Linked DNA regions of Homo sapiens. The main gene of each other region encodes a partner of the protein of the gene in region 2 in a complex. Each region holds a gene or a part of one and is shown on either strand. Other genes may lie near its edges.

Evidence for each region.
Region 1: the proteins of NXT1 (region 2) and NXF1 are in contact, whole or in part, in a crystal structure (PDB 4WYK), measured with the Homo sapiens proteins. Residues at the interface, in NP_037380.1 of Homo sapiens: Phe6, Lys7, Val10, Asp11, Cys14, Glu18, Thr44, Val46, Trp47, Asn48, Gly49, Asn50, Ala51, Phe61, Met64, Leu65, Pro66, Ile72, Ser73, Val74, Val75, Asp76, Cys77, Gln78, Pro79, Val80, His81, Glu83, Ala84, Thr85; in NP_006353.2 of Homo sapiens: Ala366, Pro367, Thr368, Thr369, Leu370, Pro371, Pro372, Cys373, Lys374, Gly375, Tyr377, His411, Gly413, Cys415, Cys416, Ser417, Leu418, Ser419, Ile420, Pro421, Phe422, Arg440, Asn441, Val442, Lys443, Lys444, Lys446, Pro448, Thr449, Arg451.

Annotation. Positions count from the first base shown.
Region 1 is NC_000011.10:62,802,435-62,809,466, forward strand, and holds the start of NXF1 (nuclear RNA export factor 1), read right to left. Parts: upstream 3,007-7,032; 5' UTR 2,923-3,006; coding exon 2,895-2,922; intron 2,656-2,894; exon of another isoform or gene 1,724-2,655; coding exon of another isoform or gene 1,648-1,723; intron 1,545-1,647; coding exon 1,358-1,544; intron 1,139-1,357; coding exon 985-1,138; intron 1-984. Other genes in the region: STX5 (syntaxin-5), read right to left, coding at 5,035-5,194.
Region 2 is NC_000020.11:23,346,366-23,353,804, reverse strand, and holds the start of NXT1 (NTF2-related export protein 1), read right to left. Parts: upstream 3,015-7,439; 5' UTR 2,744-3,014; intron 2,476-2,743; exon of another isoform or gene 2,338-2,475; intron 1-2,337.

The DNA of each region.
Region 1 (7,032 bases), on a different chromosome or scaffold from region 2:
ACACTTACTATTTTTTCTTAGTAACAGGGCCTCACTCTGTCACTCAGGCTGGAGTGCAGTGGTGCGATCATAGCTCACTGCAGCCTTCATTTCCTAGGCTCAAGCGATCCTCCTGTCTCAGCTTTCTGGAGTAGCTAGGACTACAGGCATGTACTACCATGCCCGGCTAATTTTAAAATTTTCTGTAGAGAAGGGGTCTTGCTGTATTTCCCAGACTGGTCTTGAACTCCCAGCCTCAAGTGATCCTCCACCTCGGCCTCTCAAAGTGCTGGGATTACAGGCATGAGCCACTGTACCCAGCCCATTTACACTTATAATCTCTCAAAAAAAAATCAATTTTATTTATTCTAAAAGTTCCAAGATATTATTTACACCTTGCCTGCCCCTCAGAGAACTCCAGGGCACTCCAGGGACTCCAAGCCCCACACTCAGCCTGAGCCAAATGAAGACATCCAGAGGAATTACTCCCTCCCCCAACCAAAATTTTCATATTTCTCTTCCACCCCTTCTCTGAACCTGCTCTAAGGTGTTGGAAGATACTGATTCCTAGGAGAAAAGATAGATACTTGAGTGTGGAGTAATCAGATGACAAGGAGAATTTTTGGGCTGGGTGCGGTGGCTCATGCCTATAATCCCAGCACTTTGGGGGGCCAAGGCGGGCAGATCATGACGTCAGGAGTTCGAGACCAGCCTGGCCAATACAGTGAAACCCCGTCTCTACTAAAAATACAAAAATTAGCCGGGCGTGGTGGTGGGTGTCTGTAGTCCCAGCTACTCGGGAGACTGAGGCAGAATAGCTTGAACCCGGGAGGCGGAGGCTGCAGTGAGCCGAGATCACGCCACTGTACTCCAGCCTGGGTGACAGAGCAAGACTCCATTTAAAAAAAATAATAATAATAATTTTTGTGGAATAAAATTAAACATCTCCACTCTCAGCGTGGCCTCCTATCTCTACTGTACCATCTACTTTCTCAAAGTACTCACTGTAATCTTGAACCAGTTCTTTGAGGTCCCATCCTGGCTGGTGCCAGCCCCTCCTCTCTCTGGAGGAGCTCTGTCTCTCCGCACAGTAACATGAATGCGATCTCGATCATGCCAAGTATCACCCCGACGGTTAGGTCGGGTGGTATAGGGGTTGCTGTGGGTAAGCAGAGAATAAAATGACCACAAATGCTAGGAAAGTCTTCTCAAAGGCCTTCCTGCACTGTTAGTGGGACTACAACTAAGACTGTTTAATCACTAAGCTAGTCCTGGCATTTCTCACTCTAACAGGTGGGAAAGGAAATGACATGGACAGTAAAAGGGCCATATAATCTCATGAGCCACTAAATTCAAACCAGACCAACTGGTCACTCACTATCGTACTCGGGGACCATCCTGGGCATCACTCATTGCCACATCTCCATCATCTTCCTCAAGGCGGGAAGACCGAATACCAGAACCGCCTCTTCCAGACCTACGGTTTCCTTCACCATATTTCCACCGGAAGGGACCCCGGCCTTTCTTCTTTCTTTGAGGGAAATTAACGCGTTCATCATCGTGTTCTAGAGTTAGAAACAGGAACACAAATTAGAAGTAAGTAACTGGTCCGGTTTGGTGTGGCAATCATAGCTTCTAGTACTCTGAACTATTGGAAGAGATACATACTAACGACAGAGGCCATCTCCATGCAAACTCCGCTCCCTATCCACAGGAAAGAACCCTCTCTGTGGGAGGGCAGCATCAGGGAAAAGTTACTGGAAAACTGTGTAGGGCTTTTGAAAAATGAAGTAGAAACTGGAATTAGAGAGAAGCAGGATGTAGAAATGTGAGACCCAAAAGTGTAACTGAACACAAATCAGACCTCTGAAAGCCACCTGAAATCTGCCACTCAGTACTTTGTCTATACAGTGCAGACGCCAGTTACAAATATGACCAGTTTAAGGATCCTCTAAAAATTCTCCTTGTTCTCAAACTGCCACTTTGAAGTTTTGTGAGGAGCTCTTCGTTTCCATGGCCAGAAATGTCCTTTAACTCAGGAGACAAATTCTAGACTCAGGCTCTAGTGGCAGTGCCAGGCTAGGGTGCTTAACCAGGGACCCTGGAATGCTCTCCAGGAAGATGACCTTCTGATTCATGCTGTGTAGGACTGGCGTCTTAAAAAAGGTCCCTAACTCCCAAAAGAGGTCTGCCTAATACCCAGCACTCTGTAAACAATGAATCTCAACAAATGACCCTAGGAAAAAAGAACATAGAAGGCGCAGCTAACATTCACTGAGAACTTTCTCCAGTGCCGGCCACTATGCTTCAGGCACTTGATAGGAATGATCTCATTTCCCCTCCCCACACACACTCTTAAGAAATGCTGTTGTTATTCCACATTAAGGGGGTGGAAAACGAGAGTTTTAAATTCACGGTTTCAACCTCCACCACGCACTCCTAACTTACTACAAAGAACTAACACCCAGTGTAGTGTTCAGACTAGAATATCCAGTTGATGTGTAAGTCTCGAATATTAAGCCAAAGCCCAGGCCCGAGAGTTCAAGACCGACTGGACGCAGTAAAAAATAGGGCATCAGGGCAGCCCACGAGCAGGGCACTCACTCACATTAAAGGAAGAGTCAGGCCGCCAAACCTAACTGACAGGCATCAACCACCCACAAAGTTCAAAGGAATCCCGTCACCCTACCCCCGAGCCATCCGCTCCGAGCCGCAGGTCCCCCAACACCAGGATGCCAGCAGGAATCCAGGAGTCAACAACTCGGGTGTCCACCTCGAGTGCCCGGCCCCCCGCGCGCCGCTCCCCGCGGACGCCGGGCCCCTAGCGGCCTCACGCCCCGGGGGCTGAGGCCTAGGCCGGCGCCGCCCACCCGCGCCCCAGATAGCCAGTTCCCGACCCGAAGACCAGCACTTACCGCTGTACGACTTCCCCTCGTCCGCCATGCCACAGCGAAGATCAAGGGCGGGCTCAGGCGCTGGCCGCTACGCCGGCAAACAACCTAACTCCCAAGCGCTCAGGACCGAAGTGTCCCTACGCCGGGCGCCACCGCATTTATACAGCAAAGCACGTCGCGCGCCGCTGACGTCCCAGGCTGTGGGCGGTGCCGCCGCCCGGAGAAAGCGCGGCCCCCTGCGCGTGCGCACACTTAAGGCCGTCGTTCGAGGGGCGGGGCCTGGCCCTCCACGCCCCGCCCAAGACCTGAACTTGCGGAACCCCGGCTGGCAGCCAGCATGTCCCCGCACCTTTTCATCTGTCCGCTGACGCTGCCCTGGCAGCTTCAGAGTTAGTGCTAGAGCACAGTGCTGCCGCCGCAGCCCAGAACTCAGTGAGGAAGGGGGCCGCACAAAGGGCTTCAGAGGAATGGAGACCGCGCCTCCAGGTGGGAGTGATGGCTCAGACCCCTACCGGAATCTAGCCAGTGTTTCAGCTCGGCTCCTTGTCTATACCTCGCTTTCTTCGCCTATAAGATGGATTAACAAATCACGAAGTTGAGAATTAGAATGTGAGCTCGAACGTTGACTAATTAAGGGCTTTTTTTCCTCGAGGGCTTGACTCGGCAGGTACTATGCCTGGCACATGGTAAAAACTCAACATATATTTGTGAAATAAATGAATTTGTGTTATGAATTTCCCCCACCCCGCCCCGCCCTGAGTTGCTGAGTCAAATGATACGACATCTGTCAGGGGTTTGGCGAGCATTGTCTTCACAGACCTTCCATCAATGGCGTCCCCTACTAGAAACCCATCGTGTCAACGGGGCAGACAGTGAAGCTCACCAGCAGTGGCAACTTGCTGGAGATGCCGAGGAGGACATTTTAAAATATCAGGGCCTTGGGCTCTCCTAGACCCCCAAAAGCACCACCACCAGCCCCTGACTGTTGTCTCTATAGCTTCAACTTCCTTTGGAATGTATGAGACAGGGGCACTCGAGTGACCTCAGAATGTGGTTGTGAGTCTCGGTCAGGAAGAACAAAGCACACTAATCTCCCTGGACGGTGGGTATTCTGGGCAGGTGTCTCCATTCTCTGTGACTGGCTTTGATTTGGTGAAGTGCTTGGAGGGAATCAAAAGCCTCAACTGGAGTTGGGAACAAATTCTTCACCTTCCACTCCTGGAAGCAGGCAGAGCTTCTGCCTCGCTTAGCTCAAGGAAGAATTACGGCCAAATAGTTGGAGGATACAGATGAAACAGGTCCAAACACTGCTTGAGATAGTCCTGGAAGTTGCCCCCAATCAGGGACCCCCTCTGGGATCCTGCTCCCCTGTGTGAAAGGAAGTTTCCACGCTAATGAAGTGTTGCAACACTTGGTTCTCCCCTGCCTAGAGGCAGCTGTGTGTCAGAGCCCAAAATAGCCTGTGTCAGCAGTGATACCTGGCAGAGCCATTAGCCCAACCCTTTCAGTTCTGGTACTGGGCAGTGGGCTCTCTCCACTCGCTGCCTAGGCCCTTCGACGCTCCCACCCAGAAATGATGACATGGCTAGTGAGGCTGACAGTCTTGCTGTAATTGGGAGAAAACGAGCTGCAGCACATTTGGCAGATTGAGTCACCAGCAGCCAATGTCAGGGGTTGTGCAGGCAGCTGAAGGGCTCAGGGCTCCCTGCCTCACATGGTGAAAGAGGAAGAAAGAGGTCAATTGGGAAAATTGGTCCCTGGGGCTGCTTCCTCTCTTCACTCACAGGAAGGTGGGTAAGGGCATCATCTCCCTTTGCTGCCAACGCTTCCTTTGGGAGAGGCTGGAGAGGGTTTATAAAAATCTCCTAGTGGAAACAACCTCCCCCACTGGCCCCCAGCTGGCCTCTGCTCCCTTCCAGTCACTTCACAGCAGAGTTCAAATCTAGAACCCTGTGTGTTTCATAGGCCTGAGGGTGGTGGGGGGAGGACAGGGTGGCCAGAGGCAAGGGGTGGGGGATCAGGGGCAGTGGTCATTCTTAGCAGTTCCAGGGAAACAGGGCCTTTCTCCCAAGTACCCTGCACAGGCTCAGTGGCAGCACTGGCCACTTGCCTTCCCAGGAGGGTCCCAAACCCCAACAGAGTGCCTCAGAGTAGAGAGGGTTCAAGCAAGGAAGACCACAAAGATGATGAAGAAGACAATGAGGATGAGGAAGATTTTGACCATGAGCCACCGGTTGGAGGTGACAGACTGGAAGTACTTGAGGATCTCTGAATGGGCGGCCTCAACGTCCAGCTGGGCTCCTAGCACGTTCTCGTCGATCCTGGGGACAAGGCCGGGAGAAGAGGAAACAAAAGGACACTGGATTAAAAAGAATGCTGTTGAAGTCCATTTATTGACATGGAAAGATGGTCACAATATGATCCCATTCTTATATATATTTGTGTATAGAAAAGGCTTTGGAAGGGTACTATAAACAAGTTATTTCTGGTTTGAAAACCAACTCTGCCATTTATTAGCTTAAGACTCTAAGTTAGTCTAACTTCAAGCTTCATTTTCCTCACCGGCAAAATGAGGATAACCCAAACCCTACCTTCTCTCAGGCTACTGTCTGTCTTCAATGAGTTAGTATAAAGTCCCTAACCCACAAGAGCCCCGAAAATGTTAGTTACAATTTTTCCTCATCAGTATTTACATTTTTATCTGGTGAGTATGTATTATATTTATTGTAAGGGGAAAAATGTTCACAGACCATTGCAGTCAGGAAATCATGGTTCTGAGTGAAAAAGGAAAACATAATGACACGGACAGGAAATCAGGGGATAAAAAAAGCTCTATGGCCAACCATGGTGGCTCAGGCCAGTAATCCCAGCACTTTGGGAGGCTGAGGTGGGCAGATGGCTTGAGCTCACGAGTTTGAGACCAGCCTAGGCAACATGGCAAAACCCCATCTCTGCAAAAAATACAAAAATTAGCTGGGTGTGCTGGTGTGACCCTACAGTCCCAGCTACTCGGGAGGCTGAGGTGGGAGGATAGCTTGAACCCAGGAGGTTGAGGAGCTTGATGCTGCAGTGAGATTGTGCCACTGCACTCCAGCATGGGTGACATAGCAAGACTGCCTCAGGGGGAAAAAAAAAAAAAAACACCAAAAAAAAAGGTATATGGACCCTAGTTTTGGCCAGGCTGTAATCCCAGCACTTTGGTAGGCCCAGGCAGGAGGATCACTTGAGCCTAGGAGTTGGAGACCAGCTTGAACAACATGGTAAGACACTTGTCTCTACTAAAAAAATAATAATAAATAAGTATATTGGAGGATGTGAGTAGATTACATGCAAATATGACAAGATTTTATGGGACTTGCGGATGCATGGATTTTGGTTTCCTCTGGGGCTCTTGGAGCCAATGCCCCACAATACCAAGGGATGAGTGTGCTTAATCTGATAGTTAGCACCTTGAACAAGTGATTAAATTGACATCAGCAATAAAAGGGATAACCTCATCAAGTGCCTACTAATGTAATCATCGCAGCACTAATTTAATCAGTGTTAGATTTAATTTAACATTGAACAAAACAAGTTGATGTCATGAAAAATAAAACAAAAGGCCCACTGAAGACACACATCAAATACAAAATGTGAATCTTCCTGGGTCTTAAATTGAAAGAAAAAAGATAAAAACTTTTGTTTTAAATATCAAATGGGGGCCGGACATGGTGGCTCACACCTGTAATCCCAGCACTTTGGGAGGCCGAGGCAGGCCGATCACGAAGTCAGGAGATTGAGACCATTCAGGCTAACATGGTGAAACACTGTCTCTACTAAAAATACAAAAAATTAGCCGGGCATGGTGGCGGGCACCTGTAGTCCCGGCTATTCGGGAGGCTGAGGCAGGAGAATGGCTTGAACCCAGGAGGTGGAGCTTGCAGTGAGCCGAGATCGTGCCACTGCACTCCAGCCTGGGTGACAGAGCGAGACTCCGTCTCAAAAAAAAAAAAAAAAAAAAATCAGATGGGGAAACTTGAACATGGGCTGATTACTGGATCATGTTGGAGAACTGTTAATTTTCTTAGTTTGAAAATGACATTATGGGCAGGGCGTGGTGGCTCACACCTGTAATCCCAGCACTTTGGGAGGCCGAGGTGGGTGCATCACGAGGTCAGGA
Region 2 (7,439 bases):
TTGCTCACTGTTAAGATGGGATTACCACTGTGGCAAACTGAGATAGTATACCTTAAGTGTTTAGTTTAAAAACATTTAGTTATAGTCAGCACTCCATATCTGAGGGTTTTGCATCCACAGATTCAGCCAACCTCAGGGCGAAACCTGCAAATACGTTGGGCTGACTGTGCTATGCCATTTTGTTTTTGTGACAGTCTCACTTTATCACCCAGGCTGGAGTGCAGTGGCGCGACCTCGGCTCACTGCAACACCTGCCTCCCAGCTTCAAGCGATTTTCTTGCCTCAGCCTCCCAAGTAGCTGGGAATACAGATGCCCGCCACCACGCCTGGCTAACTTTTGTATTTTTAATAGAGACAGGGTTTCGCCATGTTGGCCAGTCTGGTCTCAAACTCCTGACCTCAGGTGATCTGCCTGCCTCGGCCCCCCAAAGTGCTGGGATTACAGGCATGAGCCACCATGCCCGGCCTTAACGCCATTTTATATCAAGGACTTGGAGCATCAGCAGATTTGGTCTGTTGTGGGGCTAGGGGGGCTGCTGGAATCAATTCCCAGAGGATAAGGAGGCCTGATTGGACCACGAATTTTTAAAATCACATTTTATAAAATAGAGTACATTTGAGTATGGAAGGCCACTCTTTCCTGAATGCTTGCAACAGACATGACAGCCCCTTGGTAAAGACAGTGGACCATGTTGAAGGGAAGAGTGGTCACTGGCCCAATAAAGGCCAACCAAACCAATGAAATGCTCGTCAGCTGCTGAGTCTAGGAAAGTCTATCATGAGCTCACTCAGGAGGAACTGGGAAGGCAGAGAAGGCAGGTTTCTTAAGAGGGTAGAAACACAAATGACATGAGGACAGAATCAAAATGGCAGCCATAATCCCCATGATAAGCTAGAAGCAGCAAACCTCTTGGGTGAGTGGGGATTAGAAGGGAGGACACCCAGCTTACACAGGTACTAACATCCACCAGATAAGTCCTGTGGAGTCACAGTGCCTCCACAGAAAGGCATGTTAGATTTCAAAGCTCTTGGGTGTGTGGACACAGAATATGAACTATAGCTGAAATGTCACATTGTCCCCCAAATAAAAAAGTCCAAAAGCATTTAAAAAATTGACATTTACTTTTTTCAGGGTACAGGTACAACTGTTATGTTCTTTTCTCCATAATTAAAATATTTCACTTAAAAAAAAGAGGACATTACTAAAATAGAGGACATTACTAAAATAGTTTATACTTACAAACTTAGTGAACAGTTTTTTTTCATTTCAAAAAAAAGACTTTTTTTTTTATAATGATTAGCTTATGAAATAAATAAAACATTCCACATAGGGCTGGAAAGAGCCAGGTACTTATAACGGCTGCAAAGATGGTGCATTGCCTCTGGTAAAGGGCTGGCTGGGAGGGAAGCTGTCCTAAAAATGAGCAGTTAAGAGCCAATTTCAGACGTGGGTCTTTCCACGCCCTCCACAGACCTCATAGTTAAGCCTCAACTGTACTCTGGACTGAGTACAGTGGTCCCTCGGTATCTGTGAGGAACTGGATTCAGGACCCCCGAGGATACCAACACCTGCAGATGCTCAAGTCCCTGATAAAATGGTGTACTGTTTGATATAACCTATGCGCAGCATCCTCCTATATACCTTCATCATCTGTAGGTAACTTATAATACCTAATACAATGTAGATGGGATGTAAATAGTTGTTATACTGTATAGTTTAGGAAATAATGACAAGAAAAAAAAAGCCTCTACATGTTCAGTACAAACGCATTTTTCTTTTTCTGAAGAATATTTTTGATTTGAGGTTGGTTGAATCCACCCCACGCGGAACCCACGACTAAGAAGCGCTGTGTTTGCTAAGGGCTTCACACAAATTACCTCATTTAAATGTTACCACAAATGGATGAAAAAGGTATTACTATAACAATTTTACAAATGAGAAAAGGGAAACCTAGGGCTGGATCAAAGTAACGACGGTTAAGTACACTCCTGATCTATCGTTTACAAGACTAGACTGAGGGCTGAAATTTTGTCAATACAACGCTGTCCTTGTACTCGCGTAAGCAAGTCTCCATGAGCACAACTCCAGGACTGCTAGAGTGGGAATTTTCTCCCAGGGACCCCATTTCTCTTTGGCTGGAATTCCCGATCTCCACCTCACTCCTCCTCCCTCCATGGCACCAGTCCCCCCATCATCTCAGAAATGCCCCTCTTCTCCGCCCCTGGCTGTCTTTCCAAACACAATCTAACAACTGGCCACGCCCCCACACACCATAGAAGGACCATCTCCACTTACGGTTTTCAGCTACCTATGAGGTCGTCAGTCCCGCTGTCTGTGTCAAATCAGAAAAAGAACCTGACCGTGAGGACTAGAGTAAGAGGCTGTGAAGACTGCCGCCTCCTCGCACGACCCACACCGTCGAGTGTCCGGAGATGGACGGGAAAAGCTACCACAGTGGCATGGCCTTATTTCCTGTGAGTCGCCTTTAATTCAAACCTAGACAGACGCACGCCCTGCCCGGCCCTCCTCAGACCCGAGAGCTGCGCTGTGAGGGGACGCGCCTCCCCTCGTTGATGAGAATTCGCTGCCACGCTTTTTGCACAGGCGAGAGCCTCACCGCGGCGGCAACTCTACCACGTGGACAAAGGCACAGCCGTGTCTCATTCTCGACAATGGAGGAGGGCGTGGGGTATGCACTAGGGGCTGTCTCGGGGGTCAGACCGCCGGGGGACGGCAACGTACCTGCGCGGCGACGTCCAGGGTCAGCGCGGGCCGCGGCCCCCACGGTCGGGACGCCCCCCGCGTGGGACGCAGTTCCACTGAGGGGCCGGCCGCGGAGGTCACAAGGTGGGCCCACCGAAGCCTCTGGTAGGGGCACGGGAAGAGCCGCCTTTCTCTCCTCCTCCTCCTTCTTGGAGGCTTACTCTGGGTCACCGGGGCCCCAGAGCCGGGGGACTTTCCGGCGCAGTTCCGCGGCTTCCCGCGCGCGGCCAGCCGGTCTCCACGCAGACGCGAGCGCCCCGGCGCCGCCCTCTCCCGCATTCCCGTGACGGGCAGCGAAGTCAGCCAGTGGGACTGCGGGCCGGAAGGCTAACTCCGCCCATGTGTGGCTTATAAGAGGCGGTAGCTTCCGGGAGTGTCACTTTCCCAGAAATCCCGGCAAATCCGCCCTAGAGTTTTCGTTGGTCCAACCGGGCCACAGACTCCGGCCCGTCTGGTTAGGTGGGATGCCTGATTGGGCCAAACCTCTTAGGTCCCGCACCTAGAGCGGGGAGTAGCGTCTGCTTTTTTTTCCGCTGAGCGGAGGCCGCTAGGCTGGAGAGGGAGGGGAAGGTGTGTGGGGTCGGGTGAGATGCTTTCCCCTCGTCCCGCATGCGCCTGTATTGGAGTGATTTCAGTTAAAAGTCTCGTGAAACGTCACCAGTGATGTAGTCACGGCCAGCAGCAGCTGCCTGACCCCGCCGAGGCCTTCCGTCTGGCAACATGTGGGGCGCCGCAATGCTTGAGGCCACGGCGAGGGCAACGCCGGCCGCGCCCCGTGGAAACCGCGTGGCGGAGTGCTTGAGCCGATCGCGCTCTTTAGGAGTTAGGCCACTTAGAGGCGACATCTTGGTGGACACGGAGGAAGCCAGTTTTAGTCAGATGGGAAAAGTAGCTAAAAGTGGGAGGAGACTGGGGCGAGGGTGGGACGTGGGGGAGGCGGGGGCGTGACGGCGGCTCTCCACTGCCCTGAGGCTTGAGGGGCCCCGGGAAACCCGGGCCCGGCTGGGGTTGGGACTCTGTTCTTCCGCGTTCATAGCTACGATTCAGCTGTTCTGGAATGAGAACTGGATTTTTACTGAACTTTACGAACAGGCTCAACAGGATGTAACCATTCAGTGTGGAGGCATGAGAAACTATAGCTTGTAAATTAAAAGAAAAACCTCATTTCTTTAGACAACATTTTCAGCTCCATCTGCTGGTCTGAGGCTGAATAATTAATTGAAAAGCCAGGAGAGAAATGGGGCTAGATGAAGTGAGGTAGTTTAACCTGTGCTTTCTTGGCGTCCCGTCGGCTCCCTTTGCTTGCATTCCTAAGAGAATCTTGGTCTCAGATTTCAGGACAAGTGGAAAACAGTTGGGCTATTTAGTATAGGCCACCCCTTCCCCCCCGCACCCTCTCCCCCCACACACTTCAGTTAAGTAGGTGGAAAGTTTGGATTATTAAAAAGACACGTTGGAGGCTGAGCAGAGAGTGTGAAAGAGCATTTTCGGGGCTTTGTGAACTAACATGGCCTTTTGAACCCCAAGGCAGTGATACTTGGATTGATCTAAATCAGCGTGGATGGAATGGAAGTGGGAATGCGTTGATTTACTGCACGCTCAGTAGTTTGGATGCTGTGCTGCTTTTGTTTCCTGTATAATAAGCCCCTTTAATTTGTTTCACATAACTTATTGGGGGAGGTACCATTATTTCTGATTTTATAGACAAGGAGGCTGACAAAGAACCATCCTGGTGTCACAGGGTCGATTCATACCTAGAAAAGTATGAAGATTCATACCTAGAAAAATTAGAAGAACATTAATGCAGCTCCAAGGCCTTTTAAAAATGCGAGACTTTAGCTTTGAAAGGCAGCTGTTCTGCCTTTTAGGTTTGTGGGGTCTGCCTTTTAGGTTAGGGTCCTTTTAGGTTTGTGTCTCCAGCATATAAAATTGTGCCTGACCCAAAGCAAGGGCTCAATAAATACTGTTTGAATGAACAGACAAACCTGGGTTCAAATCATGCTCCTCAACTGCACAGTTGTGATGATCTGTCCTCAACACTCACTCCCTGCTCTCTTTGGAAGCAACCCTGGCTTTTATTCCCCCTATTTGTAGCAGGACAAGCCGCAGACAAAACCCCTCAGAAACCAAGTTAAAGAAGGAAGGGCTTTATTCGGCCAGGGAACTTCAGCAAGACTCACGTCTCCAACAACCGAACTCCCCAAGTGAGCAATTCCTGTCCCTTTTAAGGGCTCACAACTCTAAGGGGGTCCACGTGAGAGGGTCATGATCAATTGAGCAAGCAGTGGGTATGTGACTGGGGCTGCATGCACAGGTAATTAGAACGGAACAGGACAGGACAGGGATCTTCACAGTGCCTTTTTTATGCAAACAACCAATTAGGTCAGGAGTCAATCTTTACCAGGCCCAGGGTGTGGCGCTGGGCTGTCTGCTTGTGGATTTCATTTCTGCCTTTTAGTTTTTACTACTTTTTTCTTTGGAGGCAGAAATTGGGCATAAGACAATATGAGGGGTGGTCTCCTCCCTTACTATGATCCTGGAGTTTGGGGAGGTCAGAGACATCCCTGGTTCCAAAGGACACACGACTGGCACTGTATGCGTTGAGCACAGCTGAGGGTGGTCGGAGGCCCAATTAGGGCCACTGAGCCTGGAGGTGTTTGCTGAAGGATTCTGGGGAAGGAGATTTTTCTCCCTTCCCTTCTGGACTCACAGTGTGTGGATAGCACTGTTGCAGCCATCTTGCTGCCCTGAGTGGTAGACCCTTGATGAGGCAGACAGGAAAGCTGGGAAGAAATCAGGCTCTTGATGACTATGTTGGGAGTCAAATCATCCCTCAAGTTTGGACTTTTCAGTTTCAAGAGCCAGGAAATCCTTTTATCTTTTGTACTATTTAAAATTGGGCATAAGCATAAAGTTATTTGCAACCTGACTAGTGTGGCTTAAGCATTAGCAGGGTGGCTGTGGCAAGTGAGTTAGCCTCTTTGAGGCTCAGCTGCCTCCTCTGTAGAATAGGGGCAATGGTCATATCCATCTCCTCGGGCTGACGTGAAGAGCGAACGAAACAATGCATGCTAAGTGCTTCATATGGGGCCGAGCATGAAGTAGCATCCAGAAAGCGTTGGGAAAGCAGAATCATGCTTTGACATTTTGCATCTATAGCAACTTCCTTATTTGCCAACAATCCCTCCAATGACTGGCTTTTAAACTTGGAAGAAGTGTATTGACAAATTGGTGGGATTTGTCACCAAATTGCATGGGCCCTTCTGAAGATGAGCCCAGTGGTCCCATGTGCAGCGTGGAGTCCGTCCAGGGAGGAAGGGCACATCTGGTCACACAGGCAGAGTCCTTGGCAGCTCTGATGACAGGCTTGATTTAAGGATCTTTAAGTCTGTAAATAGAGGATTGATCTTTTCCCTCATTGTCAATGTTGTTCTCTGGCGCAGGATCTTAACAGCATTTGTTTGCCATGAGAGGCTGCATGACTTGGAGCCAGTCAATCTACGGTGACAGCAAAGCAGTTGTGACTCTAATGTACTGCCACCAAAAACACTTTCTTTTCCGTCTCTCAGCCTTAGCAGGATCATCTGAGCCACTGCCAGTTCAGAGTGAGCTGGGGCTGCTTTTCCAGGAGGGCAGTTGGGGACCTGACTTTTGAGGAGATTCTGAGGTTTACTGAAGGAGCAAACCCTATGGGGTTAGACAGAGTTTTGTGAAATCTGAGCTCTGCCTTCTCTGTACTTCAGTTACTGCCTCTGTAAAATGGGGGTGTGGACACTGTAGACATTAAATGGCAGTGTATAAAGGAGGCACCATCTGGAGCATTTGTCCAGCCTGCAATGATGCCGTTTGTCTGAGAAGGTTGTAGGGATCATTTCTGGTTTGAATCTCAGCCCTCTTCCCAGCTCAGCCACCAGCCATCTGGAATTGTGGGAGAGGTCAGACGGCTGCAAAGCCTCTATGTGGAATTGGAACTAAATACACATATTTATCAGTATTTAATGGAAGACTGCAGGATGCTTGCAGAGTCTACAGAAGGCACTGGTAAGGTGGCTCTTTTAGTCTGGGAACAAGAACTGGGCAATGGATGCCTCAGAGGCTGAGTTGGACTGACAGAGCTGTGACCAGTGTCTAGAACCTGGGATTCTCCACTAAAGTCAGATTCTCAGGAGAGAGTTGGATTGGCCCAACTTCAGTCATGTGCCACCCCTCTGCTGCCCAGGAGGGATGGGTGGCTTGAGGGACAGTCCTGCCAAAAACACCTGGGGAGGAAGTTTCTCAAAAGAAGTAATGTGGAGGAGCTGTTCCCAAAGGAAGCGGGGGATTCTGAGAAGGCAGGAATAACTGAGGCCATGAGCACAGACAGAGGATGAAGCAGAGGTCAAGGTCATGTGACCAGAGGAGAGAACTGGAGCAAGACATGTATGCACACACACATGCACACATGGACACTCACATATGCACACTTACATGTACACATGCACACTTACATGTACACATGCGTACACACGAGCTATGGAGAATGGTTGCCTTGATTCCTTACTATGATGGATTACATTTTCTGAAAATGGACACAAAATAAATTTCTGGTCCCATGTCCTCATCTGGAACCTTACCTTGCCACCCGCTGTCAGGACATGGTGTTGAGTCCTTCCCTTGATCAGGGAGGCCTTTGTGA